2 separate regions of the Homo sapiens genome follow, and region 1 is linked to region 2. The links come from fine-mapping of genetic effects on gene expression. A gene starts in region 2. The other region holds a variant in brackets. All regions are shown on one strand. Distances are between the middles of the regions.

The links. PIP is the estimated chance that this variant, and not a neighbour inherited with it, causes the effect.
Region 1: its variant is the best candidate, but not a certain one, in a credible set for the expression of GYPE in whole blood (INTERVAL, PIP 0.63).

The regions. Positions count from the first base shown.
Region 1 is chr4:143,995,460-143,999,459 of GRCh38, reverse strand. GYPB (glycophorin B (MNS blood group)) reads left to right here. Exons shown (of 5, transcript NM_002100.6): 3 at 11-49; 4 at 1,826-1,920; 5 at 3,156-3,356. The coding sequence ends at 3,161. Among named protein-coding and RNA genes, the nearest start is that of GYPB, 22 kb to the left of the region's middle. The variant T/C (reference allele first, on the strand shown) is at 1,720.
Region 2 is chr4:143,903,925-143,908,360 of GRCh38, reverse strand. GYPE (glycophorin E (MNS blood group)) reads left to right here and starts at 2,802. Exons shown (of 4, transcript NM_198682.3): 1 at 2,802-2,890. The coding sequence starts at 2,854. All of the region lies in intron 9 of LOC105377459 (a long non-coding RNA gene), which reads right to left.

The DNA.
Region 1 (4,000 bases), 91 kb before region 2:
TGCTTTATAGGAGAAACGGGACAACTTGTCCATCGTTTCACTGTACCAGGTATGTTAATATTTGACAAAGAATAAAAGTCATTCCATTTTAAACTATCCATTGCTTGTTTCAAATGCCTAAGAAAATGTGTCTATCTTAAAACAGAAGAGCATATGTTGTTAACTTTATTCACACGAAATTGTAAAGACAAAGAAAATATTCTCTTTTTAAAATTAAAATAGGCATTTCTTATTTTTAAAAACATTTTGGGGGCCAGGGGCCGTGGCTCATGCCTATAATCCCTATAATTTTGGGAGGCCAAGCCTGGCTAATCACTTGAGCCCAGGAATTTGAGAACAGCCTGGGCAATATGGCAAAATCTATCTCTACAAAAAATACAAAAATTAGCTGGGATGGGGCATGCACCTGTAGTCTCAACTGCTTGGGAGGCTGGCTGAGGTGGGAGGATCGGATCCATTGCCTGAGCCTGGGAGTTTGAGGCTGCAGTGAGCTATGACTGTGCCACTGTACTCTAGCCTTGGTAAGACCCTGTCTCAAAAACAAATACATAAGTAAATAAAAATAAATAAAAACATTTGGAAATAGAAATACATAATTTGGTAATAGTTTTTCTCTTAAGTTAGATGTTTTACCTTTCTAACCAACCCTGAGTACTTGAAAGAAGCCTCATAAGAGCTTATAAAACAAGTGAAGTTCCCTCTGCCCTCATGTAAAAAGCAAGGCATTTAAAATCATCTAATTAACTGGTACTGTATTTCAAGGGTAAATCTCAGCCTTGATTCATTTTTGGCCCAATGCAACCACTTAGGGACCATCTTGACAACCTCTGCTGAAGGGACATCCCTTCCCCTCACTTGAGTATCACTGTGTGTGCTCATTTGCTATTCTGCATTCTAACCCTCCCTTCACACTTGGCCGTGTCCATGGCTCACAGGGTAAAAAGCACATCATAGAACTTCATCACTATCGCATACATTCAAGCTAAGTGGTCAAGAAGGCTGGGCAACACCAGCAAGAGGAAATGCTACTTTTACTTTTTGTGAATAATTTAAATATTAATTAGGCAAATAAATGAGCCATTTTACCTGTATGTCTAGCCTTCCATTCTATTTACTTCATCTGGAAGTACTACAAATATGCTATAAATATGGAAATATCTCTTACTTAATTGATTTCAATTGTTTCATTCCCAACATATAAATGACTTAACAAGCATTGTTAGTGACTATATTGGAGACTATGCATAAGAATACTGTGGAAGGAATAAAGCTTAGAATATAGATGACCTGCATTATAGTTATAATTCTACTTTTAACTAGTTGTCTGACCAAGGCTAAGTTAACCTTATTCAGCTTCTTTTCTTCATTTGTAAACTGTTTATACCAGTTTCTTTCCAAAATTATGATTCTATGATCTGTTCAATGCTCTTTTATATGTTAAGACATTGTTTTCTCTCATAACTTCCAAACTATGGGAGAATTTGTGGGTTTTTTTCCCCATATCTGAGGAGAACGTCCACTGAGTTCTTATCTACAGTTACACTAGTGAAGAACGCTGGGTCTGGAATCAGAAGCCTCAGGTCTTAGTTCTGTCATCAACTATTTTGCGACCTTGGACAAAAGACTTGATCACTCACAGTCCCAGTTTCCCACAAGGTTACTGTAAAGCACACAATTTAAAAAAAGACAAAATACACATAATAGTATGTTAACTGTACT[T/C]TGTATTAAAAGGCAAGGTGATGTTATGCTGATGTTATCTGTCTTATTTTTCTATTGCTATGTGGTCATTTATTTCAGACTTTCATAATTTTGCTGCTCTCTTTAGCTCCTGTAGTGATAATACTCATTATTTTGTGTGTGATGGCTGGTATTATTGGAACGATCCTCTTAATTTCTTACAGTATTCGCCGACTGATAAAGGTGAGAATTCAGTTTTTAATTTTGCTCTAAATACCAGTGTGAACAGCTCTAGGAGGGTTTATTCCTCTGAGTTCAGTTAAACTCAGAAGAGAAACAGAACTGCATAAAATTCCATCTTTTTCAACTGGACACATAGAAGTCACTGTGTTTCTCTAGCAGAATTTTTTTTTTGCATTTGCCCAATTAAAGGGAACCTCTAAATATAAGTCTGTCCCCCATTTTCCCAATGAAAGATCTCCCTAAGTTTTTGTCTAACTTGCTTTCACATATTTTGATGGATATTGAGGAAATATTAAGATTCTTCTTATAGTATTTAACCTATTAGTGTAAAAAATATTTAAAATAATATATTTACATATGTTTAAAACTTTGGAGGAGGCCAAGGCAGGAGGATTGCTTGAGCTCAGCAGTTTGAGACCAGCCTGAGCAAAAAGGTGAAACCTAGTCTATACAAAAAATATGAAAATTAGAAAGGCTTGGTGGTGCACATGTGTAGTATCAGCTATTCAGGGGGCTGAAGTGGGAGGATTGCTTGAGCCTCGGAAATCAAGGCTGCAGTGAGCTGTGATCATGCTACTGCACTCCAGCCTGGGCAACAGAGTGAGACCATGTCTCAATAAATATATAAATAAATAAATAAAAATAAAATAAAACTTTTGCCTTTCTTAATTCTCACATGTTCTGAAACAGATTTTACAAATTTCCACCCATGAATTCTTAACATCAGTGATTTTTTTTGAATCATTAAAGTTTTTTAAATTTTTTTTTGAGACAGAGTTTCCCTCTGTCACCCAGGCTCGAGTGCAAAGTGGCGCAATCTCTGCTCACTGCAGCCTCTGCCTCCCTGGTTCAAGTGATTCTCGTGCTTCAGCCTCCACAGTAATTGGGACTACAGGTGCGGGCTACCATGCCTGACTAATTTTTGTATTTTTTTAATAGCAGAGATGGGGTTTCGCTGTGTTGGCCAGGCTGGTTTCAAACTCCTGACCTCAAGTGATCCACCTGCCTTGGCCTCCAAAGTGCTGGGATTACAGGTGTGAGCCACTGCGCCCGGCCCTAATTAGGGTTTTTATAAAACCAAAAGAACTTGGCAACACCCCTAGGTACCCTTTAGAAGCCTCCAATTGGCTACAGCCTGTGAAGGATTGGCCTGTGACCAATCAGAGGCTGAAGTGGAGTCTTAGCTCATGGTCAAGCAGAGGCTGAAGTGGAAACTTCTTGTCTTTTTATCACAGGCATGAGGATGTGGCCTGCATGCTGCCTGATCTTGCCTAGAACCGGCTGCACCTGCTGTTCTCTTGTTTATGCAAACTGGCTGCACCTGCTATTCCTTTGCTTATGCCCCTACCCCTGGCTATCCTAATTCCCTGTTCTCCTGCCTCACTATTACTGTATTCTCTACTTCTAAATAAAAATAAAACAAAATACAAACCGTTTTCATGTATTATAGTCATGATTTGTTATTTCAAGCTATGTTTAAAATGTAAAGCCCATTACAGTAGGATAGATGAGAAGAAAGAAGGGTCTGAACAAAGCCAACAGCGGAGAACATGCAGAAGGGGAATGAAGACTTCAGCCTGGACTCTCATTAGGTGGTTGTCCAAGATAACATGAAGTCTCATGTGAAATATATTGGAAAAGAACAAGATTCAGTCAAGTACCCAAGGTGCCTGACTGCTGAAACGGCACTGTAATTTAAAAAGCAAAGACAAGTTTATCATACTGTGAGATCCTTGAGGGCAAGGACCAAATTCTATTCAAATCTTTGTCAAAAACCAGATTTTTGATAGGCTTACTTTAGTATCCATTGATCTTAATTATAGTTCACCTGCCAGGAGTTAAGGTCCCTCCTCAACAGTAAAGAGAATGACAGGCACAGGGGTAGGAGCACGTAGAGAAGGGCCTGACTTTCAAATGAACTCTGGAGAGCACTCATCACCTCCAGAACACAGCAGATCTTACTGAGATGGCTGGGTCAGAAATCTCTGAGGGACTCCAGGATGCCCACGCCTCAGAAAGGACAGGTTAAACCAAAGGACCTGGGGTCCCAATGTGCAGCACGTTTCCTCTTCTAGTACAC
Region 2 (4,436 bases):
TCATAGAAATGACTCGGGCAATTCAAAAAATAGCTTAAAGACATGTAGTATCAAGAAAATTGGATAAGTTTTTTATGTTTGATTAAATGCCTCAAAAGTACTTGTTTTATTTTATGCAAAGATTCAAAATTCTTAAAAGATGTGGATTTGTCTAATAATTTGCATGATATAGCTCATAGGTAGAATTTTATGATAATTATGAATGTGTACTTCAGTAAAAATATTTCTGAAAAATTTAAAGAAGATTAAGGAATGCCTGAAAGAGAAAAATGTAATCTGATGTATTTTTTTTGTTGTTGCATTTACGGGGCTCACATTTTTTCCTTCCATTGTGCAGATACGCCACTAGAGAGCACTGTACGGCACTGCTTCCTCACACCCTGTGTGAGGTGCTGAATCTGACCTCTGATTTCCTCATTGAGAACCCTCCAGGTTTTGACTTACTTTAATAGGGCCAGGTACTCTATAGGGCATTGTGCCAGATGCTGGAAACAGAACAACAGAGACAGGACCCACAAATACAAAGGAACAGATTGTTCACAACAACCTGAGACAGGTGTTAATAAACAGGCCTGTGTCAGCACTACAGGAGTTTAGAGAATTGCTAACGATGTGATTCTGCAGGAAAGGAAAGTGGGAGGTCATGGAAAAGAAAGCACTCTCAGACTCTGACCAGTCCAGGCTGAAGAAGGTATGAAAGCTGAATTTTAGGCTGAGTTTCCTTTTCATTTTCCCCTTCCTGCCTTAGCAATGGACCTCCATACTGGAGGGAACCTGAAGCTAGGATATGACATAGGTTACCCGCAGGATATATAAAAAATGATCAGCCTATACACCCAGGACTGCCCGTGAGAAGTTGCTTTCCTCTGCACTGCAATATTCATTTGTCATTTATTGATTTGAGAAATATTTATTGTCAAGTGTGCCCCAAGCACTCATTGGTAAATAAGATAGCCATAGTCAGGGTGTGTCCACTTAAAAACTGTAGTCCAGTGGAGACACAATGATTGCAACGTAGTGTAATAAGTCCTGTGATAAGGGAAGAAGATGGAACCACACAAGTATAGAGCAGGGGCACCTGACAAAGACAGGAAGTCAGGGAAGGCTTCGTGGAGGAAGTACTATTCAATGAAGACCCTAAGCAGAATTGGAGGCCACCTAAAAAGGAGTAGGTGTATTCCAGGTGAAGATAGCACAACCCAGGAAAAAAAGAATCCAATAGGATTTTATTTGTGTATATACAATTTTCAGATCTTGCTGTTTTCCACTTATCCATTTTATCCTGAGTCTCCATATCTTTATTTTTGAAAACATGATTTTAATAGTTGCTCTAATAGTCCATCGTAAGAATAGTGACATTTATTTACCCATTTTCAGAAATAGCATTTTTAAGACTCATGCTAATCGCTCTCCCTTTGTCAATATAAAATCATGTGAATTAATTCTTACTGCTTATATGAATATCAACAACATTTCCTTTACTTGGTTGACTCTTGAGCACAATTCCTGCAACCCAAACTGATATCCAGCCATAACAAACACTGAATTTATGGAAGGTATTAAATTATTATGTATTGTTTAATTTTAAGTTTTTAATAAAATTTGCTGCAGTTGTTTTACATGAATTGGCAGGGCCTTAAGAGGCACTCTGGATTCTTTTCCTGCTGCTCAGATTACCCCGTCTGTGTCATTCATTCTTCCGTCTCTCCCAAGTCTGCATCTCCACTCCCTCCATCCATTAGTCCCTCAATCTCAGGCTCCTCCCTCTCTGGGATGCTCTGCTGATACTTATCTCCATCTTTTATCCAGTAAATACTTTTTTTTCTCTGTGGTCCAGTTTCCTGAATCTGCAAACATTAGCTTCATAAATGATTTTTTTAAACCACACTTTGGGTAAATATGTAAGTATGATATATGTGGCAAATTGCTTACATAGCAAATTGATTTTCTGGGTCAGGCAGGAAAGACTTTCACAAAAATCTTACAGGAAGTAAGATGATTTAGATGGAGTATCCAGTCACCTTCTGTTGAACCATTTCAGACCTAATTTATATTTTTTGTTCTGTCTCCCTTTAAAATTGAGCTTCCTCACATTTCCATACCTTTCATTTTAACCTACTTTAATGATAAGGTTTTTGGTTTGTTGGGTTTTGTTTCTGACTGTTTTCATTTATTGTCTTGGTATTCATTTATGCTTACTTAGCAAGGTATATTTCAGACAGAAACAGCTCACTGGTTTCATAGCTGCACAGCACTAGCTCTTCAGTTCAAACTCTATTTTCACTGAAAGATTTGTTGCATCTCATGTCTCTTACATTGCTGTGTGACTCACCATGAGTTTGGGAGTCTTTCAGAACCTCAGAACACTCAAATGATTTAAATTTCTCAAATATGTTCATTTCACATATAGGAAGTCACTTTCATCTGGACCACCGGGTCTTGACATTAGAAATGAGAAGGTCTATGGCTCCACAACAGCTACCTCAGCCTGGCACGTGCCCTGGCCTCAGAGATTCACAGTCCAGTTCTTTGTCCAGTTGGGTGGCTCCTGTCTACCACCTTACCATGCCCACTTAACTGATGCAAAGTTAATATCACAAGTAGCCACCTGTTCCTTGCAGTGAAAATTGTACTTACCACTTTCATAGCCCCAAGATATCCATGTATCTTTATTAACAGGCGCTTAACAACTTGCATCATTTAAAATGCCTCCCCTGCCTATCAGCTGATGATGGCCACAGGAAGGTGGGCCTGGAAGATAACAGCTAGCAGGCTAAGGCCAGACACTGACACTTGCAGTTGTCTTTGGTAGTTTTTTTGCACTAACTTCAGGAGCCAGCTCGTGATCTCAGGATGTATGGAAAAATAATCTTTGTATTACTATTGTCAGGTAAGTGATTTTATTTCATCTTGGTTCTGTTATATTGGGTATGAGATCATAGAATAAAATGTAAACTACCCTATTTTAGTTCTATCTTATTTAAATGCATAAATGAGTAGTATTTCCTCTTCCAGTCTGGTGGATGGATTTTACTGGAACTCAGCTACCAATGTGGGGGAAATGGCACAAGGGAGCCCAGTATTTATGGCCGAATCCAGTTTTCTAGTATGAGAAGCTTACTTCAATTCTAAGTCTAGCTAGAATTAAACTAATTTTATCAAATGCTATGAGAAATAGCTCTCTGTGAATAAATGTATTGCTTTGTTTGAGTTATAAGGAGATTCATTTCCAAACTAAAGAGTTATTAACAAAGGTGTTATATGGCTTTTAGTTTTAAAAAGGTATAATTTCCTATTTCTGCCAAATGGTGAGAAGCCAAAAGCATGAACACTGAAACCGTGGGGAGTTGTTCGCTTCTCTGTGGGTCCATTACTAAAGTGTCACATAGGAAGAAACAAAAACAAAAACAACTCTTACTGGCTTAGATGTCATGTGAATTTTAGGAGAAATTTAAATCCATTAAAATAAATATCATAGGGTCATTATTAAATTGTATTCAATAATTTGAATTTAACTTAGTTTAAATTTAATTATTAATTTAGTGTATTAAATAAACATGATTTTGGCCTCTTTCTGAGAATATTATAGTTAAACATCCTCTCAAGTGCAGTGCTTATGTGTTAGCAATACTAGTGCCCAGCACACAGGGGGCAGGCAGTTGCTTGAAACATTCTGAGTCTATTAGACATTGCTGTAATCCAAGTGAGAGCAAGTATCAAGGATCTACTGAGCATACAGTAGCATACAGGGAAGAGAGGATCTACTGAGCATACTCTGTAGCATACAGGGAAGAGAGATCAGCATTTTCTAAGATACCCTAGGGGAGGATAAAATAGTGCAATAGTTAAGAGCACAGGCATGAGGAACACACAGAACTGGGTTCAAATCTAGTTTTACTTCTCAAGGCTGGGGAACATTAAGGCAAATTATGTGCCCACATTTTTATGTGTCCTTGTCTTTAAAATGCAGGCAATGTTGGCACTTGCCTTATAATAATTGCGTAAAGATTAAACAAAATGTTTAATGGAATACACTTACTGATGCCTGAAACAAAGTAAAATGTTAAGCTTACTATGCATTTTCTATGATTAGAATTAACTATCATGATTAATAAGTATTAATAATATATTATTAAAATAAGCAGTAGCTATCAGTAGTTACAGACTAGGGAACAAACCTACGTATGTGATTGGTGATTTCTGAAAAGTCAGAGAGAAAAGAAAATTACAGAAAGAAAACAGAAAACAAACATAGCTACTCTAATTTTTTAAGCAGAAAAGTATGAAAACATTTAGTTTGAAGAAAAAACAAATGAAAGGGATGTAGTGTAATATTTGTATATGTATTCATATATTTGAAGTGCTATTACACAGAAAAAAAAGATGTATTCTTTGTGTTGCTCCATGGGGCAAACCAAACTGGATGTAACTCAAAC